7 linked regions of the Homo sapiens genome follow. The protein of the gene in region 1 purifies or fractionates together with the protein of each later gene. This does not show direct contact. Each region holds a gene or a part of one and is shown in the gene's direction. Other genes may lie near its edges.

Region 1 (3,500 bases):
GCTCCTGTTGCTGTCTCTGTCAGCTGTCTGTGGCTGCATAAAAAGTCACACCAGCACATGCTGTCTTAGGACAGTGGTGACATGTGCCTTCTTCCAGTGCAGTGGGCAGATGGGACCATTATTCTGTTGGCCTCTCCTGGCCTGGTCAGCTGGTGCACCATGCCCCATGCGTGTCAGAGGCGTTGTCTGGGACACTGGCCTCTTTCCACATCGACTTTCACCCTGGGCTCCCCCACGTGAGGGCAGTGGCATCCCAGAACAGCAGGAGCAGGAGCGTCAAGGCCTCTGAAGGCCCAGCCTCAGAACGACCAACGTCCTCCACATCCTGTGGGCCAGAGCCAGCCCCAGGCAGCCCTGATTCAAGGGGACGAATAGCCCCCGCCTCCGAGTGACAGAAGTAGCAAAACCGTGGCCTTTAACCACACAGTCTGCCCGCCACAGGCGCATCTCTGGTCCTCACATGTGCAGAATGCACTCACCCACCTCAGGCCCCCAGCCCAGGCCCCCACCTGAGGTCCAAGGCCTCGTCCAGATCGCGTTGAGTTGTGGCCAGTCCCCAGGAGTGGGTCATCAGGGGCAGCTCCAGGGTCCTCGTGCCTGCCCCACACACCCCCACAGGGGCGAGGCTGAGGCAGTGACCACAGCAGACGCACCTTTCAAACGTGCAGGGAAAGGTGGCTGACGGGAGGCGTGAGCAGCCATCCCAGCTTCTGCTCGTCGTGGGAAGCAGAAGGGAGTCGCCCGGCAAGGCCAAGGCTCAGAGGTCTTCCTCTGTCACTTCCACCACACGCAGTGCTGGGAAAGCAGCCACCGACGTGAGGAGACCAAGGCTGCCTGGGAGGAAGGACCAGCAGAACCGCGTGGCTGCGGGGACAAGGGCAGATTTGGGGGACAGCCATGGCACCACAGCCCCTCCGTGGAGTGGCCGGGAGAGCAGGGCCTCTGGACAGGGCTGGGCCACCACACAGCCAGTCCATTTAGGATAACAGAGTCTTTCTCGGTGCCAGACCTCAGCAGCCTCTGCAAATGGTCCCCCTGACATATTTTACAGGGGCAGATTCTCTGTCGTTAAGAAATGTGATCAGAAAGGAACCAAGCGAGCAGTGGCCACTAAGTTTGTGAACAAGAAGTTGATGAAGCGCGACCAGGTCACCCATGAGCTTGGCATCCTGCAGAGCCTCCAGCACCCCCTGCTTGTCGGCCTCCTCGACACCTTTGAGACCCCCACCAGCTACATCCTGGTCTTAGAAATGTGCGTACACACCTGGCCTTCCCTCTGCCCAGCCCTCTGCCTCCACCTCAGGGGGTTTTGTTGTTCCTGTTTGTTCTCTAAGAAGGATAGAAATTGGGTTTGTAGAATTTACAGAACTAAAAAACATCTTCACTGTCAGAGCCCGCAGTTTTCAAGCCTTCCAGTAATGGCAGAAAGCAGTGTGGTCTTCCACAGGGCGGTTGCCTGATGAAGGGCAGTCACTGCTGGGATGGAACACCTGATATGCTCAGCCAACCCGGAGATGCACCCCCCCCACCCCTTTTCTGAAGGTCCCATGAGGCCAGGCTGTCTCTGGTGCTGAACCCAAGCCCCCATTAGTGGTTGGAGGCTGACCTGATACCCCAAGCCTGTGCAGGGCCAGCTCACCCCGGATCAGCGGGGTGCCCCTCAGGCCTCCTGCCAAGTGAAGGCCAGTTGGATGGGAGGGTAAGACGCACCTCCCCGCAGAATGTCCTCCGAAGAGGGGGCGCGGGCACACCAACCAGAGCTGCCCCTCTGGTCCCCGTTGTACTTACTGGGCTCCTGTGTAAGATCAGAAAATAATTTAGTCACGTCAAGAAAAGAGTTTGAAACCTGTGTCCCACAGGAGCGGTTCTCATCTAGGGGTGGGTTCTCGTGGAAATGTCAGGAGAGCTCAGGCTGGGGGTGAGTCCGGCAGGGAGCGGCCGGAGGCCAGGGATGCCACCCAACCTCCTGCAAGGCAGGGACAACCCCCATGGATTCATCCACCCCAAACATCTGTGCATTTAGCTTTGAAAAATGTCGATTCCTCCTTTTTAGGGGGAGTCATTTTATACATTTACTTGCATTTACAGCTGCTTTTCCATGGGGAAGGGTAAAACCTTTTGTCACCATTTGGGAAGTTTGCATAGCTTCTTCAGTGGGAAGGATAGGATTAGCAGGGCGCCCCCATGGGGTCATGTAGGGGCAGACTCAAGCTCGGGGCCCCTCGCCGGCAGGAACTCCCTCCAGGCCCTGTACCTGATGTTGTAGTTATTGTCATTTTTTTCTTAAAGAAACTATAAATGCCTCCCCATACCCTTCCTAGGGCAAGGCTGCCACAGCGTCCCACATGGCCCCACATGCAGCCTTACCAGCTTCCTCGGGCCGCCCATGTGCCATGGGTGACAGTGGGTGTCTCAGGAAGGCCTCCCACCCATGGCTGCACAGCTAGAACCTCCCCCAGCACATGGGGACGTGCTTCCAGCCCGTCTTTCAAGAATAGAAAACACATCTCATGGCAGAAGGGCAGACGGTGGGGCGCAGTGAGGCTGAGCAGTGTGTATGGAGAGGAGGTCCACTGGCCTCGCCTGGCCTCAGTCCCCGCCCTCCCTCTCATCGGCTCATTTCTCACCCTGGTGTCCTTAAAAGTCACACTGGCTTTGGAGGGTTGTCGTGGGGCCGAGATGGGGCGATGTGTGTGGAAGAGCCGAGCCGACATCCAAGCCGAGGCCTGGCCTGGGAGCCTCAGGACCCGGGAGGTCTCCTTTCTGGCTCCAGACGCTGGTGACCAATGGCCACTGCTCACCTTCCCTGGGGAGTTTTAACAAAACTGTGGCTTGAGTGCTTGTCACAAATCTCCTAAAGGCCTTCGTTTCTGGACTGACATTTCAGTGCTTTCAGCTGTCATTTCTGGGAAACAAAATGGTTTGGCCTCACCATCCTGTTAATAGGATCCGTTTTCATGACAGATTACTCCTGTTCTCACCGGCGACTCCCCATTGCTAGACAGGCAGCTGATCTTCCTACAGATTTCTGTTTTGCAAAGAGAGCAGCATAGGCCGGTGTTGAGAGAGGTGGGGGCCAGACCACCTCAGTCCAATCCTGGCTTCTCCACTCTGGAGCTGTGGGACCTTGGGAACGTTTCATGCTTTCTCTGTCCTGAGTTTCCTCGTGTATCAAATGGGTACACTAAGGCCCACTTCACAGAGAGTCATAAGGATTAAATGAGTTGTTAGAAGGCATTGAGCCCCTGGCACTTGGCAGTGCTGGGTAAGTGTTTTTTTAGTATGAACAGTAGTTTCAGAGGAGGAAGTCTTCTGAGTCCAACACTGAGCACTCAGTGTGTCACCTCCTGCCCAGCCTGTGGTTACATGATCTCGGTGAGTCTTCCCGTGGCCCATTCTACAGGTGAGGAAACTACAGCTCCGAGAAGCATGAGCTACTTGCCTTCCTTCAGCAGATACCGCAGGATGCCTGCTGCACCTGGCACTGCCGGCAGCCGGGC
Region 2 (4,660 bases), on another chromosome or scaffold:
TGGCCTCCCAAAGTGCTGGGATTACAGGCATGAGCCACCGCGCCCAGCCCTTTCTGCCTCAACTTTGCACCTTTTCTTCAGAGAGTTACCCTGGGCTGAGAAAAGAATAGATTTTCAATTTGGACAGTTTTTTCTTGGCTTGTTTCCTCTTTGGTTACACGGATAGTAACTATGTCATGCAGATGTGCCTGGGAGAATGGGGTGAATACAGGAAGCACCTTATTCACAGTGGGCCGGTTACTTGTCTTCCCTTCTTTCTGAGCTGCAGGGAACGGGGTTCTAATGCCAAGGCTTAGTAAGGAAGGTTCCCACGAACAAAACAGCCCCTTCTCTCAGTCCCAAGCCTCCCAGGGACTGTGCTCCTCCTCTTCAGGCCTTCCCTTCTCCCTCTGATTAAGCCTTCAACACTTGGTGGGACTGGGCAGGGGACACAATTTTGTACTCTTGATCCCAAAGGAGATAAAGGCTGGGAAATCTAGGGAAGGAATGTGAAGCCTGTTGGAGTAAGTCCTTTTAAAAGCAGCAAGAAGTGACCTTGTCTCCCTCTTTCCATTCCCCCGGGGCTTGTGAATAGCCTTCAGTGCCCAAGTTGGAGTAAGAGCTTCAGAAAGACTGGCTGTGAGGGTTTGGAGAGAGGTTTGAGAAAGCAGCTCAGAGACTCACAGAGTCACACCAAGAGCTTAGCTAATCAGCTAATCAGCACTGGAGGAAGACAAATGTCCTTGGTCTGGTGGGACAGCTTCGTGAGGCTTGGAGCATGCAGCCTACCAAAGTGAGCTCAGTGCCAGCCCTGCAAGTTGGGAGGTAGAGAGGCCAAACCAAATTGGAAAAAATGACAAAACCCCTATGTACTTTCTAGAACAATACATACCAGCTAGGAAGTGTTAAAAGACAAGCTCCCCAAAGTCAGTTCCTTAGCTTTTGACTTATTCTAATGTAGGGCCTCCATTTTTAATAAACTCTCCCAGGTGATTCTTAGCTGCAGATTTGAGGCCCGCAATTTAAGAAACTGCTCTTGAGACTGCATAGACATCCTCAGGGCTGGAAGTTCTTTGTTGACCCGACCAGATTCTCTCCTGCTGTGGAACTGGTTTGTCCTGATCCTGCTGGCTTCTCTGCAGACTACACTCATCAGGGGTTGGCTTGGCGCCTCCTGGGCAATGGGGCAAGAGTAATCATAGCAACCTAGGTGAAGTCCCAGGGGAAAACTGTGACCCTGGGCCAGGCTCCTGGGGCCGCTGACAGTTAGAACCCCCTCGGCCCATAGTAAGTTCTTTAGGTTCGGGTTCTGACCGAAAAGTTTGGCCAAAGCCAAAGTGGAGAGCAGGGCACGCCAGGGCGGGTCAATCCTTCAGAGCCGCGGTTGGGCTGGAGCGTGGAGCTGCAACGGTTGGAGCGACGGGCTCCGGTTCCTAAGCCACCAGCACAAGGCAACTGCCCGCTGGAGGTGGGAGGGGCGGGGCCGGGGGCGGGGCCTGAGCCGAAGAACGCGGGCTAGTGGTTGCCAAGGTAACGCGTCAACACTAGGGCCTTGGCGGCGCCGAGGCGGCAGCAGAAGTCCGGAGTCAGGGCGTGTGGCTGAGGAGATGGTGAGGGAGAACCTCAGATGGGCCCCTTGTGTCCTGAATTGGGTGGGGGCTCTGAGTGGGGAAAGTGGGGGCCTAGGGGAGGTCACAGTTGGGTCTAGGGGTCAGGAGGGCCCAGGAGTAAGGAGAACACCTCTAGAAGAAGCAAGGGAGATCCTGAGGTGGGTTCAAAAGAGGAATTAGGGATAGCATCGATAACGATTGGAAATGTGGAGCGCGCTGAGCGGAGGAGTTGGGGAGAAAGGGATGCCCCAACCCTCTCCCCGTTGCCATTACAGCGGGGCCTCTGTGGACCAAAGATTGTGGATGTGGTGTGGGAAAAAGCACTGGTGGGCCGGGCGCGGTGGCTTACGCCTGTAATCCCAGCACTTTGGGAGGCAGAGGCGGGCGGATCATGAGGTCAGGAGATCGAGACCATCCTGGCTAACACAGTGAAACCCCGCCTCTACTAAAAATACAAAAAATTAGCCGGGCGTGGTGGCGGGCGCCTGTAGTCCCAGCTACTCGGGAGGCTGAGGCAGGAGAATGGCGTGAACCCGGGAGGCGGAGCTTGCAGTGAGCCGAGATCGCGCCACTGCACTCCAGCCTGGGCGACACAGCGAGACTCCGTCTCAAAAAAAAAAAAAAAAAAAAAAAGCACTGGTGAGGAGGCCAGATAATGGGTCGTGGTACCTGTTTTGCCACTAACTAGCAAGGTGACTGTGGGTAAGTCATCTAATGTGCCCGAGCCTCAGGTTTTTCTTCTGTTAGCAGGGCTTTGTATCCCTCAGTAGTTAGTCAATAAATATTTGGCAGTGAATGAATGAATGAATAAATGAGTGAGTGAGTGAGGAGGGTCTCAGGTTTGCAAGGCCCGGGAGAGAGATTGGGACAGGACTGGCAGCCTGGGGTTTGCTGGGATGGGGAGGGCTGTCAGGGTACTGAGGGCTGAGAAGGCCAGCAAAGCCTGGGAGGAACCATGAAGGGGATGCCTGGGCTTGAGTGTGTTGGTCCCAGAGGGGAGGGGAAGGGCAGATGATAAGTGTTGGAGTCTTGGGTTATTGGAACTGACCTAGAATGTCTGGGGCACAACAGGTGGCAAAGGTTGCTACTTGGATGTACTTGTGGACAGACTTCAGGCCCAGGGGCTGCATTGCTTTTCTGGGGCTCAGTGGACCTCAGAAGAATTTTGTTAATTATTAAATAAGTCTCCAACAAAGAGCAGTTCCTGACTTTCGAGGACTCCCTGCAGTGTTGTAATTGGGGTGGGGGAGCGTCCCCTTTCACTTATGTATTCTATTTGATTCAGTGTCCCATCTTCTCTCAGCACCTTACAAACACAGTGGCGTATGTATGTATGTGAACACCTACTGTCATGCCTGGTGTCTAAGGGCATATGGTAAATGTTAGTTCCCCTTTTGTCCTCTTTTAAAAATTTCCTATTTCCAAGCTCTCATAGGGCATAAGTTGCACCTGGGCAAGACCTGTGGGCTTCAGAGCACCCAGATCAGGGATTCCCCATCCAGGAGCCACTCAGGGCAGGGGTTTGACTCACTCACTGAGCCCCTCTGTAATTCCTGGGACAGGACTGGGCATATAGACACCTTTGAGAAGCAGTGGGTCTAAGTTAGTGATCTCTGGCAGGCCAGCTGTGTGTGTTCGTGTACGTATAGTGCTACTCACTAGGTTTGGAGAATATTTAAAGGCATGAGAAGAGATAGTAGTGGTGGTGAGGGTCACAATTAGGCAGACTTCCAGAACTCTTACAAAAATAATGATTAAAATCCTGCAGAAGGAGAGATGGGGACCTCAGTACTGACTAGGATGTTATCTTCTGGTGGCATCCTACAGATGGCCAACTTGGTCCCAATTGAAGAAAGAGGATAATTGCGTGGATCACTCAGAGTAAAAGGCAAGGGGTCTCGTGCATGGGAATCTCCCTTTCTTGGTAACCAAAGTCTACAGAAAGGGAAGTAGAACCAGGCCAAGAGTTTGAAGCCTGAATTTGCCAGCCTGCGGAGACTGTGCAAAAGAAGAACTAGATCTCAGAATGGGTAAGACATCTAGGAAAAGACATATCTTTCCTGAACATGTCAACCTGTTTAGTTGACAGGTGTTGAAGTTACATCAGGGAAACTTCACACTGACCTATTCTAGCCCCATTCCAGCTTTGTCTTGCTGAATTTGAGTGAAACATTCTGGATCCCAGAATATATAATGCTATGGTTTTTTTGTTTGTTTGTTTGTTTGTTTTCTTTTTTAGGTCTGTACTCTCTTGCTTTCAGAGTTCGGGCACCAGGCCCATTGCTATGCTTTGTTTTCAAATAAAAATTGTTTTATTGTTTTTTTTTTCTGGTCATAAAATTGGTATCTACTCATTGCAGGAAATTATTCAATAAAGAAACATCTTAAGATGGTAAAGGTTCCTGACATACTGTTAAACATTTTTTTGAACATGCTTTCAGTAATACATTCTGGGCACATACCTGCCATACAAACATCTTTACAAGAGTACTTCTACATTTCTTTTTCTTTTTGAGATGGAGTCTTGCTCTGTCGCCTAGGCTGGAGTGCAGTGGCGTGATCTCAGCTCACTGCAACCTCCACCTCCCAGGTTCAAGCGATTCTCCTGCCTCAGCCTCCTGAGTAGCTGGGACTACAGGCGTGTGCCACCATGCCCAGCTAATTTTTGTATTTTTTGTAGAGACGAGTTTCACCATGTTGGACAGGCTGGTCTCAAATTCCTGACCTCAGGTGATCCACCCACTTTGGCCTCCCAAAGTGCTGGGATTACAGGCGTGAGCCACCATGCCTGGCCAAGAATACTTATGTATTTCTTTATTATTATTATTTTTTGAGACAGTGTCTTGCTCTGTCACCCAGGCTGGAGTGCAGTGGCTCAACCTTGGCTCACTGCAACCTCTGCCTCCCGGGATCAAGCAATCCTTCCGCCTCAGCCTCCCAAGTAGCTGGGACTATAGGTGTACGCCACCGTGCCTGGCTAATTTTCATATTTTTTGTAGAGATGGGGTTTTGCCATGTTGCCCAGGCTGGTCTTGAACTCCTGAGTTCGATGGATCCACCCACCTTGGCCT
Region 3 (4,174 bases), on another chromosome or scaffold:
TTCTTTCTTTTTCTTTCTTTCTTTCTTTCTTTCTTTCTTTCTTTCTTTCTTTCTTCTTTCTTTCTTTTTCTTTCTTTCCTCTCTTTCTCTCTCTCTTTTCCTTCCTTCCTTTCTTTTTCTTTTCTTTTCTTTTTCTTTTTTGAGACAGAGTCTTGCTATGTTGTCCGGGCTGGAGGGCAGTGGCGTGATCTCAGCTCACTGCAATCTCCATCTCCTGGGTTCAAGCGATTCTCCTGCCTCAGCCTTCCGACTAGCTGGGATTTTAGGCACACGCCACCACACCCAGCTAATTTTTGTACTTTTTAGTAGAGACGGGGTTTTACCATGTTGGTCAGGATGATATTGAACTCCTGACCTCAAGCGATCCGCCTGCCTCGGCCTCCCAGAGTGCTGGGATTACAGGCGTGAGCTACTGTGCCCGGCCCAAACATCTTTCCATGTCAGTAAATATTCACCTATTTACAGAGACGCCTAACTGGTGCTGCTGGCTGATTCTGCTCCCCAGTCCCTCCATATTATTTCTTTTCTTTTCTTTTTTTTTTTTTTTGAGATGGAGTCTTGCACTGTCGCCCAGGCTGGAGTGCAGTGGCATGATCTTGGCTCACTGCAAGCTCCACCTGACAGGTTCATGCCATTCTCCTGCCTCAGCCTCCCAAGTAGCTGGGACTACAGGTGTCTGCCACCACGCCCGGCTAATTTTTTGTATTTTTAGTAGAGACGGGGTTTCACCATGTTAGCCAGGATGGTCTCCATCTCCTGACCTCGTGATCTGCCTGCCTCGGCCTCCCAAAGTGATGGGATTACAGGCGTGAGCCACCGTGCCCAGCCCATATTATTTCTTTAAATGTCTTTAGAAAGAACGCGTTTACTGGTTTACCACAATCCCCATCCCTCCCTATTGCTGATTTCACCACTCTCATCAACCACCTTGTTTTTCTAGTTTCCATCATATGGATGGATGCACTGTAAATTTTTTGTTTTCTTTTTTTGAGATGGAGTTTCACTCTGTCACCCAGGCTGGAGTGCAGTGGTGCTATTTCACCTCACTGCATCCTCGCCTCCCAGGTTCAAGCAATTCTCCTGCCTCAGCCTCCCGAGTAGCTGGGATTACAGGCATGTGCCATGCCTGGCTAAATTTTGTATTTTTAGTAGAGACAAAGTTTCACCATGTCGGCCAGGCTGGTCTTGAACTCCTGACCTCAGGTGATCTGCCTGCCTCAGCCTCCCAAAGTGCTGGGATTACAGGCGTGAGCCACTGCACCCAGCCATGTATTTCATTAGACTGTCTTCCTGGACATGTAGGTGGTTTGTAACCTTGGTGAATGGAGGCAGTGGTTTCATCTCTTTGAAGCAATAGACTTTCTGAGTGCAGATAAGAGGAGCGTTTCTAGGGAAGATGGCTACATGGCCACACCAGGAGTCAGCACTCTGGTGACAGTGATGTACCTTGGATCTCTGTGTCCCCAGCTGGAATTAGAGAGAGATTTGGACAGGCTTGTGGCTGAGGCATGTCATCTTTGGACGATGGCTCTGTACTTGGGATTGATTGAAGGTGAGGAGAGCATTGGAGCCCTGTTGAGAGTTAGACACCGGATGCTGGTGATGCCTGAGAAATGAGATGGGGCTCCCATTTCCCAGGGGCTTGGAGTCTTGGGGACAGGACGAGGAAACCAAGGACTGTAGACCGGTTCGTCCGGATGCTGGGGGAGGGGCACCTACAGCACACCCAGGTCTGGGCAACTTCCCGGAGGAGGTGGCCTCAGGCTGAGCTCTGGAGAATACACGGATGGAGAAGGTGGAGGAGAAACAGGCATCCAGACAGAGGAAAGAGCGGGTGCCAGAGGACGAGACCTCAAGTGTGATCTGTTAGGGACTGAGTAGCTCCAGGGAGCTGGACTGAAAGGGACTCACGCGGGGTGGGGAAGGGCCAGATGGAAACGCTCAGGGCTTACTCCCTCCTTTACTGGCATAGGAAGCCCTTGGAGCCAGGGGTGGCATTCAGATTTGCGTTTTTCAGAGCTGCCTCTGGAAGCAGCGTGGGAGACAGATGGGAGGCAGAAAACCAGCCAGGGCTGGGGAAGAAGTGATGGAGAGGAGAGGAGACCTGCAGGGGGCTGGCGATGGATGAGATGTGGCGGGTGCAAGGAAGGTGGCATCCAAGTGGCTTGCAGGCTTCTGGCCCGGGACCCCGCGTGATGGCATGCATAGCTTTCACCAAGCTGCAAGCCACAGGAGGAGAAGCTAATGTGGTAAGGACGGGGGAGAAGGATATGAGTTAATTGGGGGCTTAAAAGCCTTAGGGCAGAGCAGCCTGGTGCGGTGGCTCACACCTGTAATCCCAGCACTTTAGGAGGCCGAGGCGGGTGGATCGCTTTGAGGTTAGGAGTTCGAGACCAGCCTGACAAACATGGCAAAACCCCATCTCTACTAAAAATACAAAAATTAGCTGGGCGTGGTGGTGGGCACCTGTAATCCCAGCTACTTTGGAGGCTGAGGCAGGAGAATTGCTTGAACCCAGGAGGCGGAGGTTGCAGCGAGCCAAGATTGTACCATTGTACTCCTGCCTGGGTGACAAGAGCAAAACTCTGTCTCAAAAAAAAAAAAAAAAAAAAGTCTTAGCGCAGAGCAAAGAGGAGGTGTTCAGCAGATGATTGCATATGTGGGTCTAGACCAGCGCTGCCCAGCAGAACCTTCAGCTGTGGTGCAAGGTGCTAAGAGCTGTGCTGTCTAGTATGGCAGCTGCTAGTCACGTGAGCACTTAAAATGTGGCTCCTTGGCCGAGAACTGGATGTTTCATTTTGTTTAACTGACATAGCTCCATGTGGCTCGTAGCCACTGTACTGACTTAAACATTTGCAAGCCCAGGTCTCAGCAGCCAGGTCAGTGGTGGGGACATGGAATGGGGCATTGTCAGCTGAAGATGTGGTGTGGACCAGGACAGGCAGAAAGAGGTCAGGCACGGTGGCTTCACGCTGATAATCCTACCCGCTTTGGGAGGCCAAGGCTGGAGGATTGCTTGAGACCAGCCTGGGAAACATAGTGAGATCCTGTCTCTAAAAAAAAAAAATTTTTTTTTTTAATTAGCTGGATGTGGTGGCATGTGCTTGTAGTTCCAGCTACCCGGGAGGCTGAGATGGGAGGATCACTTGGGTCCAAGGGTTTGAAGCTGCAGTGAGCCATGACTGTACCACTGCACTCCAGCCTGGGTGACAGGAGACCCTGTCTCCTAAATAAATAAATAAATAAATGTAGAATTAGGAGCAAGAGGAGCTGAGAGCTGAGGAACAGCCTGGGAGAGCACCTGTCTTTGGGGGTTGATCAGGAAGGCTAAACACTGGGAGACAGTGTGGGCCAAACCCCATGGCTGAAGAAGAGGGCAGTCGACATTGGCAGATGCTTACAGTGCGCACGAAAGAGGAATGCAGAAGGGTGTTGGGTGCCACGAGGGTCGTGGGTGATCGTAGCCAAGCAGTCGGGGCGGGGCCAGCAGGAGGAGGGCCAGTGGGATGCTGTGCTGATTATATTCCTGACCTAGAAGCCCCAGGCTGGGGATAAAGCCCTGTCTTATGCCAGGCTTCCTCAGGAGCTGCCTGGAAAATGCTGGGGCTTGTCCAGGCCCCAGACAACCAAATACGTTTGTGCTGCTTGTAAAGGGCTGGGTGCGACGGGGCACCAGGCCATAGAATTCCCAGGTTCTTTCCTCCCTCTGTTTTGGGAGCGGTCGGTCCCCGAGGGCGTCCCCGCTGCTGGTGCTAGGGAAGTGGGCGGCGGGCCAGGCCACCTGCAGAGTGGGCTCAGGACAGCTGTTGGTGCCTCTTCTCTCTCACACGGTTCTCAAAGCAGGGGCAAGCCTGCCGCCCGAGGCCTTCCAGCTGGGAGGTGAGCTGAGGACAGCTGCTCTACTCAAGGAAATCTTTGTTTCCACTGGGACGGAATCGGAGCTCTGGAGGCTGGGCTGGCCAAGCGCCCCGAAGGCCCGATGCCTGACGGCTCATGCGGCCTCCTTGTTTGCAGGGCCTGGGCAAAAATTTACACTGAGTCCCACTCTTCGCTCCAGGTGAGTCCTTCCTGGTGAAGGTGCAGTTGCTCCAAGATGGGAGGGAGATGCTTTAGGATGGGAGAATTCTTGGCCTATCTTCGCTTCACTTTTTTGTCCCAAGCCAGACCTCATTCC
Region 4 (3,797 bases), on another chromosome or scaffold:
GAGGCATAACCTAACTGTTTACTTCTTCCAGGCAGGAGCTAACATGATTGTGTCTGGCAGTGCTATTATGAGGAGTGAAGACCCCAGATCTGTGATCAATCTATTAAGAAATGTTTGCTCAGAAGCTGCTCAGAAACGTTCTCTTGATCGGTGAAACCATAAGGAGCCCAGTGTTCCTGTTCATGAAATCTCCCTTTTACTGGAAAACAGGAATATTGACTACCAAATCACAATGCAATTGAAGCCGTACTGCTTTTTTGAGCAGTTATTCATTCCAGTGATTAAAACTGATTGTGCAGAATATTCTAAGAGGTCAGAAATTGGTGTGTATAACTACATTTTTAGTGATGCAATTTATTGATTAGTGAGTAAGATACTGTTTTTATTGAGAGATTTGATTTTTATAAAGTAAAAATACGGCTGCATTAGGGTTACAAACAGAAAAGTGTCTTAATGTCTAAGGAGGGCATATTAGCTACACTACAAAAACAAATTTTGTCTGTACTTCTGAAAAGAATTTTGTTGTTTCTCAGCTGTTTTCCAAAAGCAAAGGAAGTCTTTATGGTTTTTTTCTATTTCATGTTATTGTGATTTGTTTATAAGTTTGGGTGGGGTGCATACCATATTCTTGGTTCTTAAAATCTATCACTTTTCACCTTACACTTGATGTGTGAAAACTATAAAAACAATGTGTGAAACCCAGGGGTTCTAAAATACAAGCATAGATTTTATCAGGGTGTTTTGTCAAAGCAGGTTATTCAGTGATTCCTCCCCACCATTCTTAAGAACGTTAAATAATGCTGTTGTGTTAGCTCTGAGTAGAAAGGAAAAAGTAAAACCTCTGTTTGGAGGTAATATTGGGTTGAATTCTGACTGCCCCTTTCTAGCTGGACCTTTAACAAATCACCCAATCTTTTTTGTGTTTCTCTAAAGTCATTTATACATTAAATGTAATTATAGCAACTGTGGGGTTCTGTTGAGAATTAAGAGCTAACACTATATATGTAAAGTTTCCAGTACTAGTCCCAGAATTTAGAATATGCTCAACACAAAGTAAACAGCATTATATAAGTTTATATTTTTGTGAGTTATAAAGTACTTTGATATATTCTCATTAAATCTGTAAATCACCTCTATAAGTAAGTGGTAATAATAAAGCAGATATTTTTGTCCCCATTTAAAAAATGAAGAAATTAATGCTTAATAGGGTGGTACCCTGGAAAGGATCTGGGAAGTGGTAGAATTTCTGGTCTGTACTTTTACAAATGGAGCCCTTGGGAGGTGGGTTAGGTAAAAGAAGCTTTTTACTTAACGTTGTCTTATTTCCAGTCTAATTTTACGCTGTAGCAGAACCAGATGGCTGAGAAAATTCTGGAACTATGGATCTTGACCCCAAGGATATATTATTTTATTCCAAGAAAGATCAGGTAGGCGAAAAGATGACAGGATACAGAGTCAATCCATAAACTAAATATTTATAACTGTTCTGAATTATACAGAGTCTAAAAATATGTGTCAGCTACTTCATTCCTGTAAATACTCTTGCTGTGTTATAAATATGGCAAGAAATAAACATGACCAATATCAATAGACTTCTTGAGGCTACTATAAGTTTTGAGAAATAAGGTTCAAAAAATAAGAATGCTAACACTTAAGCACAGACTAGAGCTTGCTTGGGTTTCTTCCTGCATTACAAGGTAAAAATTTGTTAATGTTTGTTTTTATTCAGCTTGGGAAAGCTTTGTGCCATGAATACGTCGCATTTAATAACAAGCAACACACGGCATATAGAAATAACTTTAATTAAAAAACTTACATAGAAGATTATAATATCAGACGTGACAAAGATTTGAGTTTATTTGCCTGGACAACTTGGGTTTGTCTGGCTTTTGTTTTCTTTTTCTTTAAAAATAAATGTACAGTAAAACTACAAGCAAAAGTTTGTCAGTATTGAATTGAATTTTTTACCCCTTAAAAGGACTAGTATAATTTCCAATCTCTAACAAAAACTTAGTGTCAAATCTCACAGATAAGGCCAAATGGCCAATATTTTCAGTTATGTGGGTAGTACAACTTGAGTAACCTTTTTTACATGACAAAAAGTGAGTTATATAAATTGTCCTCAACTTTCACATAGGAAAAAAATGGTTTAATAGCTTCAAAAGGAATTTTCTTTCATGTATACTCTTCAGTATCCAATATTGAAGCTTTGTTCTTTGAAAAATTTTAATTTCCAATCTAGGATGCAAGCAAGAATATATGTTTATTTGAATAGAGTAAGCTATGGCAAAGAATGACCAAATTAGCTAGAAATAGAAATCAGCCAGAATTAACTAATTTCTTGCTAATCTAGAAATACAATCATCTTTTTTTTTTTTTTCAAATTTTATACTGATAGGGCTTTACTGTTTGTGGCTCATTTTAAAACTGGTGTCTTCTCTTCATGAGACACATTAATTGGTAAAACTCAAATTGAGTTTTCAAAGATGTGATAGTATTAAAGTGCACCAATATTTGACTCAAATTTGCTTGCTTTATTTTGTTAGGAGTAAACAGAAAGTAGCCTGTGTTTAGTCCCAAAGATAGCAGTGATTTTGAATAAAGGAGTTTTGTGTTGCCTGGATATATGAATTTCTGTAAATAACTTCTGTTGGTTAAACATGTTAAAACAACAACAACAACAACAAAAAACTTCTGTCTCTATATTCAGGACGTTCAGATGTCTTTTATTAGTGGAAACCTGTGTTTTATCTATTCTGCAGCTTACATTTCATAGGGTAGTTCATACATGCATTTCCAAGGGGAGTGGGTCATTGCCAGTGTTTTAAAAACTACATAGGGGTGTGTGTGTGTGTGTATGTTTATTTTATACACACATATTTGTATATTCTAATATATTACTAAGGCAATTTTAATGAATTACCATGTATATAAAAAAATAGCTGTCACTTGGCACACAGGTTTGTATGTATGTGTATATATATATGTATGTATGTATGGTGTGGGTACATAGTCTTAAAAATTACCCAGTAATGTGATTTGACATCAAGTTGCAGCAATTAATATCTTGGTGTTTGTAAGTAAGTTGCATGATAAACACAAATGACTACCACTTGTCTGTAGATGAAAATCTGGTTACCCTTATGGTTCCAGAAGGAAAAACAGACTTATCTTGCCTGTTTCATAAACAGCATAAAAGATTAATACATGCAGAACATGCTCTTATTCTGGAGGGGATGGGGGATCCAGAACAGGGCTTTATTTCCTCCCATCTTTCCTACATTTACATAGTTTTCTTAACCTGTTCCCTGTCACCTATTTTTTTTAACATTAGTAAGTCCTAGACCAAAGGTTTTGTATTCTTCCATTCCATCTGACTGCTTTTTTGGATGGTGGCCATTCTCTGGTACACTGGTACCGAAGATTTCACCATGGAAAGCTGTGCTTGACCTTTCAACCTGATCCTTTTTTTCATCTTGACATAATAAGGCTGCCATGTCTTCACCCTTCAGTGGAAAAGCCCGTCGTTCCCACCACAAAGACTGAAAGGGGAAAAATTTTCAGTTAAGTTTCAACTAACTTGTTTTGTTTAAATTCATCTAACAAGTAATCTGTACATGTCTATATTGTAATAATTGTTCTGTTCTTTAGCACATAAATGTACAATTTTTCATTTCAACTTAAATAGCAACTCAAAATGGAATATATTGAGAATTGTTGAGTGACTTTTGGGATTTATTTCTTTACTTTGCCTCTGCCAAGAAGAGGAAATGCTGCCATAGGCAGTGGTCTTCATT
Region 5 (4,174 bases), on another chromosome or scaffold:
ACGCGGGACAGTAAGTGTCGAGGCTCAGACCCAGGCTTGTCTGAGCTCTAAACTCTTAGCCCATGAGGCTGGCTGGGGTCGCTGGAGAAGTCCTCAGCCTCATCCATGGCCCCCGCCCCATTGCCATTTCTTGGCTTCTGGGAAAAGGGTCATTTTGGACACAGAGGCTGCCAGGGGTCAGGTCCCTGGTCCTGCTGCCGGAGAAGCAGGCCACTCTGGAGGCTCCAGTGCCAAAAGGAACCCATAGGGTGAGGTCCCCCTGGACCCACTGTGATCCTATAGCCCTTCCCAAGCCTAAGGTCCCTCGTGGGTTGGGGTCATCAGGTATCTGACGCTTTCCTCCATCCCAACCCCCAGAGACTGAAGGGTTCTGAGGGGAAGCCTAGGACCCTTGGCCCTGGCCCCAGCTTCCTCCCTCCCCGCAGGTTGTCTCAACTGCAGCAAAGTGTCAGAGCTGACAGAGCGGCTGAAGGTGCTGGAGGCCAAGGTGGGTGAGCAGCTCCCTCCTGGGTGGTTGTTCCCTGCCACAGGCCAGTCCAGGCAACCACCATCCCACCCTCCCCACCTCCTTCCCCGCACCCCATGCTCGCACCCTCAGTGAACCCACAGGGCAGCTCTGAACTGACTCGGCGAGCAGCATCCCCTGTCAGGCATGTCATGGTCTCCTCCAGTGTCCCTCCCTAGGAAGCCTGCTCACAGGTCGTGCCTCAGTTTTCCCACCTGTCAAGCGGAGGGGATACTAGCATCCACTCAGGGAAAACTGTATATGTGAAGCGCAAGTCACAGCCAGCCTGGCCTGTTCTTCCTCCAGGAGGCCTGTGAGCTCCCTCCCATGGGGCTCCATCACCATCCCCACCAGATCAGCATAGACACTGCCCAGAGATCCTGGTAGGATCTCCTGCCTGCCCCTGCCCCATCCCCTTTCTCTATCCCCCCAACCCCCATCCATAATACTATCTTCCTGGTTTCAAAAACAAAACATCTATCACACATCTCAAATTATTTCAAGATAAAATGTTGTGTATTTTTTGTTTTGTTTTGTTTGAAACAGGGTCTTCCTCTGTTGCCCAGGCTGGAGTGCAGTGGCGAGATCTCAGCTCACTGCAACCTATGCCTCCTGGGCTCAAATGATCCTCCCACCTCAGCCTCCTGAGTAGCTGGGACCATAGGTGAACAATACCACATCCAGCTAATTTTTAAATTTTTGGTAGAGATGGGGTTTCTCCATGTTGCCCAGGCTGGTCTTGAACTTCTAAGCTCAAGCAATTCACTGTCTTGGCCTCCCAAAGTGCTGGGATTACAGGTGTGAGCCGCTGCGCTGCCATAAAACTTTTTTTTTTTTTTAAATTAAAAAGTACTGCTTGGCGCAGCGGCTCACACCTGTAATCTCCATACTTTAGGAGGCCGAGGCAGGTGGATTGCTTGAGGCCAAGAGTTCGAGACCATTCTGGCCAACATGGCATAACCCTGTCTCTTTTAAAAATACAAAAATTAGCCTGGCATGGTGGCACACACCCATAATCCCAGCTACAAAGGAGGCTGAGGCTTGAGGATCACTTGAACCTGGGAGGTGGAGGTTGTAGTGAGCCAAGATTGCGCCACTGTATTCCAGCCTGGGTAACAGAGCGAGACTCTGTCTCAAAAAAAAAAAAAAAAAAAAAAACAAATTAGGCCAGGCGCAGTGGCTCATGCCTGTAATCTCAGCATTTGAGAGGCCGAGCCGGGTGGATCACAAGGTCAGGAGTTCAAGACCAGCCTGGCTAAGATGGTGAAACCTCATCTTTACTAAAAATACAAAAAATTAGCCGGGGCCGAGTGCCGTGGCTCACGCCTGTAATCACAGCACTTTGGGAGGTCAAGGAGGGCGGATCACCTGAGGTCAAGAGTTCAAGACCAGCCTGACCAACTTGGAGAAACCCCATCTCTACTAAAAATACAAAAATTAGCCGGGCATGGTGGCGCATGCCTGTAATCCCAGCTACTCGGGAGGCTGAGGCAGGAGAATCGCTTGAACCCGGGAGGCAGAGGTTGCAGTGAGCCGAGATTGTGCCATTGCACTCCAGCCTGGGCAACAAGAACGAAACTCCATCTCAAAAAAAAAAAAAAAAAAAAATGAGCCGAGTGTGGTGGCAGGTACCTGTAATCCCAGCTACTTGGGAGGCTGAGGCAGAGAATTGCTTGAACCCAGGAGGCAGAGGTTGCAGTGAGCCGAGATTGCACCACTGCTCTCCACCCTGGACGACAGAGCGAGACTCCGTCTCAAGAAAAAAAAAAGTAATTAATTAATTAATTTAAATTAAAAAGTACAACATTCTAAATTTAGAAACATGAAAAATTCAGAAATGTGAAAAAACAGCCAGCAAACCATTCACAGCAGTTGCCCATGCCCCCAAAGAATGCAACTGTCGACACTTAAGCATCCTTTCTTCCAGATTTTCTAAACACACAGACATGCATACACTTTAGTGCCATTCTTTGCTCCATCATTCCCTTCTCTGGAAATTTATCTTTTGTTTGTTCGTTTTGTTTTGATTCAGAAACAGGGTCTTGCTCTGTCACCCAGGCTGGAGTGCAGGCATTGCAATCTGCCGTGAGTTGGAGCTCACTGCAGCCTCCAATTCCTGGGCTCAAGCTATCCTCCTGCCCCAACCTCCTGAGTAGCTGGCATTACGGACATGTGCCACCACACCTGGCTAGTTTAAAAAACTTTTTTTAGAGCTGGGGTCTTGCTATGTTTCCTAAACTGGTCCTGAACTCTTGGCCTCAAGGAATCCTCCTGCCTCAGCCTCCAGGAGTGTTGGGATTACAGATGTGAGCCATTGTGCCCAGCCTGGGAACTTAATGAGATTATCAGATGCAAAAATGTTTACCAATAGAGAAATTTGAAAACCAGGCAAAAGAAGGCATGGTTGTATAATTGTGGAGAATTCATTCTATGGGGCATTCAGCAGCCATTTACAATACTTCCCTTCCCTAATATGAAAAGATTTCTCTAGGCTGGGCATGGTGGCTCACACCTGTAATCCCAGCACTTTGGAAGGCCGAAGCAGGAGGATTGCTTGAGGCCTGGAGCCCGAGACCAGCCTGGGCAACATAGCAAGACTCCATCTCTACAAAAAATTAGCTAGGCTTAGTGGCACACAGCTGGCACACAGTCCCAGCTGCTTAAGAGGCTGAGGCAGGAGGATCACTTGAGCTCAGACGGACAAGGCTGCAGTGAGTCGTGATAGCACCACTGCACTCTAGCCTGGACGGCAGAGCTAGACCCTGTCTCTAAAATTAAAAAAAAGAAGATGCCGCTGGGCGCGGTGGCTCATGCCTGTAATCCCAGCACTTTGGGAAGCTGAGGCGGGCGGATCACATGAGGTCAGGAGTTCGAGACCAGCCTGACCAACATGGAGAAACCCCATCTCTACTAAAAGTACAAAATTAGCCAGGCTTGGTGGCGCATGCCTGTAATCTCAGCTACTAGGGAGGCCGAGGCAGGAGAATTGCTTGAACCTGGGAGGCGGAGGTTGCGGTGAGCCAAGATCACGCCATTGCACTCCAGCCTGGGCAACAAGAGCAAAACTCCACCTCAAAAAAAAAAAAAAAAGAAGATGCCCCTGATTTATCAAATGGGAAAACCAAGCTTCCAAATAGCGTGTGCTGGCACCTGAGTTACAAGGCACGGGGTTCCAGGAGCAGTTCCCTGAGCTCCCTCCCAGGAGAAGCCCATGTAAGAGGCAACTCAGTCCCACATCTTGATGGGAATTCCTGGTTCAGGATCTGCCAGAGAGTTTCAGCTTTTCTCTGGACAGGCCCCCACGATCCCTGAGCCCCTGATCTGTGGTCATCTGGCCTTTCGTTGGTCCTCAGCAGCTGAGGGGACACTTCCAGCTTCCCAGAGTCTTCCTCACCATGGGCCCAAAAGTGGACTTTGTGTACACCTCCAGGTTTCTATTTCATGTCAGACTCTTCCAAACTTCCTTCCAAATTTAGTGAAAGGCCGGGAGTGGTGGCTCACGCCTGTAATCCCAACACTTTGGGAGGCTGAGATAAGCAGATCACTTCAGGTCAGGAGTTTGAGACCAGCCTGGCCAATGTGGTCAAACCCCATCTCTACTAAAAATACAAAAATTAGCTAGGTGTGGTGGCGCATGACTGTAATCCCAGTTACTCTGGAGGCTGAGGC
Region 6 (4,895 bases), on another chromosome or scaffold:
GATGACTATTTTACATATATATATATATATATATATATATGGATACATTCACATATCCATATATTCATTCATATATACCCAGAAGAAGGAGATGAGCCATCCTCTCACTTTCATTTATTACCCTCTTCCTTAAAACGAATATATCCATATACATATATATGAAGATATATATATATATATATATATATATATATATATATATATATATATGTTGGTAAGAATGTGAAGAAATTGGAACCCTAGCACATTGTTGATAAGAATGCACTATGAAAAAGGTGTATAGAGCTTCCTCAAAAATTAAGAGTAAAACTACCCATATAACCCAATAATATCACTTCTGGGTATACAGTATATCCAAAAGAATTAAAATTAGTATCTTGAAGAGATATCTGCACTCCCACATCAATGGTAGGATTATCAAGAATAAATAATATTTAAACAACCTAAATGTACACTGACAGATGAACAGATAAAGAAAATGTAGTATGTACATATGATGGAATATTCTTCAGCCTTAAAGAAAGAATATTCTGCCATTCATGACAACATGAATGACCCTTGAGGACATTAAGCTAAATAAAATAAGCCAGTCACAGAAGAACAAATGCTTTATGATTATACTATATGAGTTATCTAAAGTAGTCAAATTCATAGGAACAGAGAATGGTGGTTACCAGGGACTCACTTTCAATTGGTTAAGTTTCAGTTACGAAAGACGAATAAGTTCTAGAGATATACTGTACCACATAGTACGTATAGTTAGCAACAATACGTTGATCACTTTAAAATCTGCTAGGAGGGTAGATCTCATGTCAAGTGTCTTACTTGCCCTCTGCTCCCAAAATAAAGGTACTCAAGAAAAACTTTGTAGATGATAAACATGCCTACTATCTTCATTGGGTGATGGTATTACGAATGTATGCATATGTCCAAACTCATCAAATTGTATACGTTAAAAATGCACAGTTTTTTTGTATATAAACTATACCTCAATAAAGCTATTGTAATAAATCTCCAATATAGCATCTATTAATGGTCATCACTCCAACATAATTTGAAGAAATGAAAATTATAATATAAACCACGACATAGCTATTTGTTTCGAACAAAAAATAAATATATTAATAATTAATCTTCTTAAAGAAGAAAAATATTTAGTGTAGAATTATTCAGTGTGTTGCTGGTTTTGTGTCTTCTTAGAAATGTAATAGCAGGCTGTATATACAAGATCCATTTTCATATAAATAGATTACAATGGTCCATTAATTTTTTAAGTATTTATCTGTGGTCAACTGAAAATATATTTTCGACCCGCCTCGCATGGGCCCAGGGGGCGGGGGTTTGGGTGGCTGCCCTCAGTATTGCCTGCACAAATATCTACCAAGTCTGCGACGAATAGCTCCAGCAACTTTGCACCGTGTTTTCCAGTAAGCCTACCGACAGGCACTGTGCAGATTCAAGCAGAGAGAAGTCCAAGCACTGAGGCCGCTGCTGCACCGGCCATCCTGAGACCCTAGTCGACCTTCCGGCCTCCGCATCCCCGCCCCGCACTAGGACCCCTGCAGACGATCAGGCGGCAGCCGGGGTGACTTTCTTCCTCTTTTGGCAACATGGCGGGCGGAGAAGCTGGGGTGACTCTGGGGCAGCCGCACCTTTCGCGTCAGGATCTCACCACCTTGGATGTTACCAAGTTGACGCCACTTTCACACGAAGTTATCAGCAGACAAGCCACAATTAATATAGGTACAATTGGTCATGTAGCTCATGGGAAATCCACAGTCGTCAAAGCTATTTCTGGAGTTCACACCGTCAGGTTCAAAAATGAACTAGAAAGAAATATTACAATCAAGCTTGGATATGCTAATGCTAAGATTTATCAACTTGATGACCCAAGTTGCCCTCGGCCAGAATGTTATCGATCTTGTGGGAGCAGTATGCCTGATGAGTTTCCTACAGACATTCCAGGAACCAAAGGGAACTTCAGATTAGTCAGACATGTTTCCTTTGTTGACTGTCCTGGCCACGATATTTTGATGGCTACTATGCTGAACGGTGCAGCAGTGATGGATGCAGCTCTTCTGTTGATAGCTGGTAATGAATCTTGCCCTCAGCCTCAGACATCTGAACACCTGGCTGCTATAGAGATCATGAAACTGAAGCATATTTTGATTCTACAAAATAAAATTGATTTGGTAAAAGAAAGGCAGGCTAAAGAACAATACGAGCAGATCCTTGCGTTTGTCCAAGGTACAGTAGCAGAGGGAGCTCCCATTATTCCAATTTCGGCTCAGCTGAAATACAATATTGAAGTTGTTTGTGAGTACATAGTAAAGAAAATTCCAGTACCCCCAAGAGACTTTACTTCAGAGCCCCGGCTTATTGTTATTAGATCTTTTGATGTCAACAAACCTGGCTGTGAAGTTGATGACCTTAAGGGAGGTGTAGCTGGTGGTAGTATCCTAAAAGGAGTATTAAAGGTGGGCCAGGAGACAGAAGTAAGACCTGGTATTGTTTCCAAAGATAGTGAAGGAAAACTCATGTGTAAATCAATCTTTTCCAAAATTGTTTCACTTTTTGCGGAGCATAATGATCTGCAATATGCTGCTCCAGGCGGTCTTATTGGAGTTGGAACAAAAATTGACCCCACTTTGTGCCGGGCTGACAGAATGGTGGGGCAAATACTTGGTGCAGTCGGAGCTTTACCTGAGATATTCACAGAATTGGAAATTTCCTATTTCCTGCTTAGACGGCTTCTAGGTGTACGCACTGAAGGAGACAAGAAAGCAGCAAAGGTTCAAAAGCTGTCTAAGAATGAAGTGCTCATGGTGAACATAGGATCCCTGTCGACAGGAGGGAGAGTTAGTGCTGTCAAGGCCGATTTGGGCAAAATTGTTTTGACCAATCCAGTGTGCACAGAGGTAGGAGAAAAAATTGCCCTTAGCCGAAGAGTTGAAAAACACTGGCGTTTAATTGGTTGGGGTCAGATAAGAAGAGGAGTGACAATCAAGCCAACAGTAGATGATGACTGAAGAATACCGGTTAAATAATACATTCGGATGGAGCTGGAAGTTGCAATTTCTCTTTAACAACCAAGGGGTTTATTTTCAAAGCGATATTGGGGAATTGATTTCACAGTTTGTTACCTTAGTAGGTAACGGTAAGGTTATTCTCTCTTTTTTTTTTTGGTTATGAAAACTTAGGGACTACAATTAGTATAAAAATTGGCATAATGTTGGATTGAATCTACATTTTGGCAGAAGTTAAGCATTCCCACATAATGTCAAAATTATACATTATGCAGTTTTTTTGTTTGTTTTATTTTGTTTTGTTTTTGAGTCTGGCTTTGTCACCTAGGCTGGCATGTAGTGGCATGATCTGCAATCTCTGCCTCCCAGGTTCAAGCGATTCTCCTGCCTCAGCCCCCCAAGTAGCTGAGATTACAGGTGTGTGCCACCACACGGGGCTAATTTTTGTATTAGTAGAGACGGGGTTTCGGCATGTTGGCCAGGCCAGTCTCTCCTGACCTCAGGGTGATCAGCCCACCTCGGCCTCACAAAGTGCCGGGATTACAGGCGTGAGCCACCTTGCCTAGCCCACATCATGCAGTTTGAAATGAAACTTTGCCACAACCAGCCTTTGCTGTAGCACACACATATATCACTGAAACTGTTCGAAATAAAGTTTTTTTTTGTTTTTCATGATTCGTCTTTGAGTACCTCCAGGCTGAAGGACTGTTGTACCAGTAAAAACTTAAAGGCACAAATTATCCTTGAAGACCTTCTCCCTTTTCTTTGGCCCCATATTTTATGTTGCTTTATCTTTGAAATTTTGCATGAAAAGGATGCAATGAATGGGTTCGAATTGCATGAAAAGGATGCACGAATGGGTTCGAATGAAATTGTCCTTTAGAGCATGATTACTTGTTCCCATGGGCAAATAATTTTCTCCCCTTGCTCTTCCTGGCCTGAAATACGGGAAACTAGAGTCAGAAGTTATCTCCCTCTCCCTGTGATGCCTTGAGATGTTTTTCTGCATTGTTTTATGCCTGAAATCCAATAGTCTTCCTCCATTGGAAAATACTGTTATACCAAATAATTCTAGATGAGTAACAAAGATCCTTCTAGGCCTTCATTTTATGTTTTTTCTTAACTGTTATATGATTGTGACACAGATTATAATATTACTAATTTTTGGATGTTTCAAAAGGTCAATAAGTAAAAGATGTTAGAAAGCAAAAAAAAAAAAAAAAAAAAAAAAGAAAATATATTTTCTATCATGTTCTTCTGATAAAGTAATTCAAACTTTAACCAGCCCTGAAGACGGCATTGTGATTATACATCCCTGGGTTCTCCTGCTGACCTAAAGTAATATTAATCTCCATATATAACATTAAAATATATTCCCTTATTAGCTTAAGGGAATAAATGTGAATAATCAAATTTTTTCTTTTGTTAGTGTAGGGCAAATTAAAATTTTTCTGCTTTTTAAAGTTATGAAACCATAGACTCATAGAAAAAAAATTCTTCATATACAGGATTTAAGTATAAAAACTTGCGTGTACATATGTGTATATAAATTCTTAGAAAAGTTGTTAAAATCTCTTATATGTTAAAGCACATGAGAACCGTCAGATAAAATCTGACCTCCTTCAAAAAATCTAATATTTATGTGAGGGTAATATTAATACAATACTTATCTTCTTTGTTTCTCCATTTTATGTTGAGTGTTGAGGAGCAAATTAATTGTCTTTTAGAAAGTGGCATTCTTGCAGTGGGCAGCCTGTCTGCTACTTAGTGCTCTATTATTTCTCTATATCTATTGTTATTTTGTCCTGTTAAATGTTTAAAGAAAGATTAACTATTGCATTACTGTGAGATTTTTATCAAGATTCTTAT
Region 7 (4,174 bases), on another chromosome or scaffold:
GGCCCACTGCGACCTCCACCTCCCGGGTTCAAGCGATTCTCCAGCCTCAGCCTCCGGAGTAACTGGGATTACAGGCGCGCACCACCACGCCTGGCTTTTTTTATTTTTTTATTTTTTTTTTAAAGTAGAGACGGGGTTTTGTCATGTTGGCCAGGCTGGTCTCAAACTCCTGAGCTGAAGTGATCCACCTGCTTGGTCTCCCAAAGTGCTGGGATTACAAGCCCTCTGATAGATTTTTGGTACTTGTAAAGACAGTTGTTTGGCATACCAGACAAATACTTGTCTGGAAGATTAGTTTACAAAGGCGTTGGCCCTTCAGGCGAAGCCTGTTGGTGTCAGGAGTGTTTTCCAAGCTGTCCTTGCTTTTATGTAAGAAACGCTGTTGAGTCGCAAGCTGGCTGCCCTGTCGGTTGCATCAGTTTGGGAGAAATACTGCTTCTGTTGCTAAATAGCCTTTTTGCCATTCGTGAACCTTTTGTTGGGGGAAAAACAAACTGCATTTTGTTTTTAAATAGGCTAACTTAAAGGAACGTCCAGCAGGTGGTGAGTTCTTGTTGGTGTTGGGAGGCAGGCTGTCTCCTTTGGCTGCTGTGATCACGCTGATCCTGGGCTTCTTTGTGCGATTTTTTTTTTTTTTTTTGAAACAGAGTATCGCTCTGTTTCCCAGGCTGGAGTGCAATGGCGCGATCTCGGCTCACTGCAACCTCCGCTTCCGGGGTTCACGCAATTCTCCTGCCTCAGCCTCCCGAATAGCTGGGATTACAGGCGTGTGCCACCATGACTAATTTTTGTATTTTTAGTAGAGATAGGGTTTCACCATGTTGGCCAGGCTGTTGTCGAACTCCTGACCTCAAGTGAGCCACCGCGTCCGGCCCTTGTTTGTGCTTTGACGGAACATATTTTATTGTATGTTGTCTGAATTGGTAAGGAAGTCATTTTAGGCTTGTTGTTTCTCACGTGTGCTCCCTGTGGTATGCCTTGTGTCTGGGCCTCCGTCACCCTCTCAGTCACAACCAACAGTTGACTTTATTGCTTTAACCTCATGTTTCCGTCAGGATCTGTGGTTATGACTGAATGTCAGGAATTTTAATTTTAGCATTTTCACGTTTATTTCACAGTCCGGGTGCCGTGAACACGGGTTTGTAGTCATGAATCGCTGCTATTGTGCCACATTTCTGGCCGTGTGTGGTAGATGTTTGGAGAGCCGGGTTGTGTAGCTCGGAATATCTAGGGATGTAAGGACTGACGCAGCTGTCATCAGCCTCAGGGGACTCAGGTGTTTCACGTACACTAGATGAGCACATCTTCTCTGTGTGTGTGGGTGACGTGTGTGGTGGCGCAGCAGGGTGCCCTTGGGCTCTTTTGCTTCCTCTACTCATCTTCGGAGGTGCGCGTGGAGCCGCATGGCCTGTCCTGCCCCATGGATGGATTATTCTACTTGTCTGTTCTTTTGTGGCTGTGGAAGGCCGGCAGTGGGCATCCTGCAGGCAGCCATGTTGCAGAGGCACGTGTATGTCCGTAGGGCGGGTTTCTAGAAGCCAGTGTCTGTGAGAAAGGCACAGGTAGTTTTCACTTGCTGGGTGTTGCCCCATTATCCGCATAGAGACTGGTTACACTCCAGCAGCCCCCTCTGCCTGAGTTTTTCCTCTCTTGTGACACTGTTACTCATTCAACATTCAGTAATTTTTTTTTTTTTTTGAGACAGGGTCTCGCTCTTGTCGCCCAGGCTGGAGTGCAGTGGCGCGATCTCAGCTCACTGCAACCTCTGCCTCCCGGATTCAAGTCATTCTCCTGCCTCAGCCTCCCGAGTAGCTGGGACTATAAAAGCGCCCGCCGCCTCGCCCGCCTAATTTTTTGTATTTTTAGTAGAGATGGGGTTTCACCATGTTAGCCAGGCTGGTCTTGATCTCCTGACCTCATGATCTGCCCACCTCGGCCTCCCAAATTGCTGGAACTACAGGCGTGAGCCACCGCACCCGGCCTTACTTTTCTTTTTTTAAAATAATATGGAACTCCTCACGTGTCTGTGTGTCATTCTTGCTCAAGAGCGAAGCAGCAGCACTTTTCTGAACAAGAATGACAGGCCTGTAAGAGGAGTTTAGTGTTAATGGAAGTGTATGTGCGCCCTGCGCCCTGAGCCAGGCAGATTCCTTCAGATGCAAACCTTTTGTGATTTATAAATAAAGCTAGGTTGAGAAGTCTATATTTTTTAGGTAATTATAAGTATCAGTTGTGACTTTACAAGAACACATGTTCTATACCAAAGTAACTTTTTTTGTTGTTTTTTTGGGACAGAGTCTCGCTCTTTTGCCCAGGCTGGAGTGCAGTGGTGAGATCTCCAATGTCTGCAACTTGTGCCTGCTGGGTTCAAGCGATTCTCATGCTTCAGCCTCCCAAGTAGCTGGGATTACAGGCACGCACCACCATGCCCAGCTAATTTTTTTTTTTTTTTTAGTAGAAACGGAGCTGGGGTTTCGCCTCCTGGCCAGGCTAGTCTGAAACTCCCAGCCTCAGGTGATCCATTTGTCTCGGCCTCCCAAAGTGCCTGGATTGAAGGTGTGAGCCACCGCACTCGGTGCCAAAGTAACTTTTTTACATGTAACTTGTTGTGACAAACTTAAGTGTGCTTGTCAGCGATGACAGAAGAATTTTCTGGTCTTACCACACTCCATCAGTGTTTGGAGACGACCTCTCTTTCTCCTTGCGTGAACTAGAGCTCATTGGTGGCACATGACACACGTTTCCTGTTCAGCTCTTTTCTCCAGTTGATTAGGAAAAGTATTTGGTCAGTTTCCTCACCTGTGACTAGGAAGTCCAAGGAACAAGCACCGTCGGACCCATCGCGGCATCTGTTCTCTGCCTGCAGCAACCCTGAGCCTGTGGGACTCCTTTGGGTGTTGGGTCTCGGTTCCCATGGAGCCACATCGTGGGGGTGTTGGGAAACTGGGGGAGACAGAGTTTCCTGTGGTGGAGCGGGCAGTTGGACCTTTGTGAGTCCCTTAGGAATCCTGTGAACTTGGATCCTCCAAAGCCAGGACGTTGGTCGATGGCCAAAATGTTCTGATGAAATCTTCCCCAAGTCCACATCAGTCAGTCCTTTCAGTTTAAAGTAAAGCCTTAAACAAGCTATGATGTTCAGATGTGGCTTTGTGATGGTCAGTTCTGGTTTGATTGCTTTTGTGTAACTTGCTACAGCCTGTCGCCCAGGCTGGAGTGCAGTGGTGCTATCTCTGCTCACTGCAAGCTCCGCCTCCCGGGTTCACGCCATTCTCCTGCCTCAGCCTCCCGAGTAGCTGGGACTACAGGTGCCCGCCACCGCGCCCGGCTAATTTTTTGTATTTTTAGTAGAGACGGGTTTTCACCGTGTTAGCCAGGATGGTCTTGATCTCCTGCCTTCATGATCCGCCTGCCTTCATGATCCGCCTGCCTTCATGATCCGCCTGCCTTGGCCTCCCAAAGTGCTGGGATTACAGGCGCGAGCCACCATGCCCGGCCTAGATTAAAAATTTGAAGACATATTCTCTACTATGAGCCAATGAAATTACTCATTTTGTTTCTATCCCATTTGCTGTCCCTTGCTTTTGGAATTTTGTGTCTTAGTGTGACTGTGATTCTTTCTCTCCTTTTGTCTTTCAGCAAACGGGGATTCAGCGTCCGATCCTTTGGAACAGGGACTCACGTGAAGCTTCCAGGACCAGCTCCCGACAAGCCCAATGTTTATGATTTCAAAACCACATATGACCAGATGTACAATGATCTTCTTAGGAAAGACAAAGAACTGTATCCCAGCGGGTTGCCCTTTAAAAACCCCCCGTGTGGTCCTCCCTGGAAGGTGTTACGTGTGGCTCGGGCACAGGAGGCGTGTCACCCTGTGCAGTGCACACACTGGCTCCTCTGTCTTTGCGAGAGCTTGGTTTCTATTCCTGGTGCACGTCGGATCGTCCACGGGTTAGTTCCAGTGCCACCCATGGCAGTAGGCGTGGTGAGGCGCACAGACACGGTGTGGGGTTCACCCTGACGTGGTTCAGCAGAGGGTCGTGACATAGCGTAGACCAGGGATGCTTAGGTGAGGAGGTGGAACCCACAAAATCCCATTGCTTTTCACACTGCAGGGCTGCCCCGTTATTTCCTTTGCAGGTTGGTGTGCGTGCGTGTGTGCGTGCGTGCCTGATAC

What was found.
Region 2: the proteins of TRIO (region 1) and CFAP45 fractionate together in Homo sapiens (co-fractionation; one large-scale study listed by BioGRID). This does not show direct contact.
Region 3: the proteins of TRIO (region 1) and C1QTNF1 purify together in Homo sapiens (co-immunoprecipitation; one large-scale study listed by IntAct). This does not show direct contact.
Region 4: the proteins of TRIO (region 1) and RPE fractionate together in Homo sapiens (co-fractionation; one large-scale study listed by BioGRID). This does not show direct contact.
Region 5: the proteins of TRIO (region 1) and EMID1 purify together in Homo sapiens (co-immunoprecipitation; one large-scale study listed by IntAct). This does not show direct contact.
Region 6: the proteins of TRIO (region 1) and EIF2S3B purify together in Homo sapiens (affinity purification with mass spectrometry, with the first as the bait; one large-scale study listed by BioGRID). This does not show direct contact.
Region 7: the proteins of TRIO (region 1) and SSU72 fractionate together in Homo sapiens (co-fractionation; one large-scale study listed by BioGRID). This does not show direct contact.

Annotation. Positions count from the first base shown.
Region 1 is NC_000005.10:14,503,342-14,506,841, forward strand, and holds part of TRIO (triple functional domain protein), read left to right. Parts: intron 1-1,051; coding exon 1,052-1,252; intron 1,253-3,500. UniProt on the Homo sapiens protein: Guanine nucleotide exchange factor (GEF) for RHOA and RAC1 GTPases. Involved in coordinating actin remodeling, which is necessary for cell migration and growth. Plays a key role in the regulation of neurite outgrowth and lamellipodia formation.
Region 2 is NC_000001.11:159,897,025-159,901,684, reverse strand, and holds the start of CFAP45 (cilia- and flagella-associated protein 45), read left to right. Parts: upstream 1-1,519; 5' UTR 1,520-1,586; coding exon 1,587-1,589; intron 1,590-1,605; exon of another isoform or gene 1,606-1,706; intron 1,707-4,660. UniProt on the Homo sapiens protein: Microtubule inner protein (MIP) part of the dynein-decorated doublet microtubules (DMTs) in cilia axoneme, which is required for motile cilia beating.
Region 3 is NC_000017.11:79,030,477-79,034,650, forward strand, and holds part of C1QTNF1 (complement C1q tumor necrosis factor-related protein 1 isoform 1 precursor), read left to right. Parts: intron 1-3,822; exon of another isoform or gene 3,823-4,057; intron 4,058-4,174.
Region 4 is NC_000002.12:210,019,638-210,023,434, forward strand, and holds the end of RPE (ribulose-phosphate 3-epimerase), read left to right. Parts: intron 1-31; coding exon 32-154; 3' UTR 155-2,623; downstream 2,624-3,797. Other genes in the region: KANSL1L (KAT8 regulatory NSL complex subunit 1-like protein), read right to left, coding at 3,312-3,542. UniProt on the Homo sapiens protein: Catalyzes the reversible epimerization of D-ribulose 5-phosphate to D-xylulose 5-phosphate.
Region 5 is NC_000022.11:29,226,065-29,230,238, forward strand, and holds part of EMID1 (EMI domain-containing protein 1 isoform 1 precursor), read left to right. Parts: intron 1-425; coding exon 426-487; intron 488-4,174.
Region 6 is NC_000012.12:10,504,293-10,509,187, forward strand, and holds EIF2S3B (eukaryotic translation initiation factor 2 subunit 3B), read left to right. Parts: upstream 1-1,597; 5' UTR 1,598-1,610; coding exon 1,611-3,029; 3' UTR 3,030-4,233; downstream 4,234-4,895. UniProt on the Homo sapiens protein: Member of the eIF2 complex that functions in the early steps of protein synthesis by forming a ternary complex with GTP and initiator tRNA.
Region 7 is NC_000001.11:1,564,379-1,568,552, reverse strand, and holds part of SSU72 (RNA polymerase II subunit A C-terminal domain phosphatase SSU72), read left to right. Parts: intron 1-3,636; coding exon 3,637-3,780; intron 3,781-4,174. UniProt on the Homo sapiens protein: Protein phosphatase that catalyzes the dephosphorylation of the C-terminal domain of RNA polymerase II. Plays a role in RNA processing and termination. Plays a role in pre-mRNA polyadenylation via its interaction with SYMPK.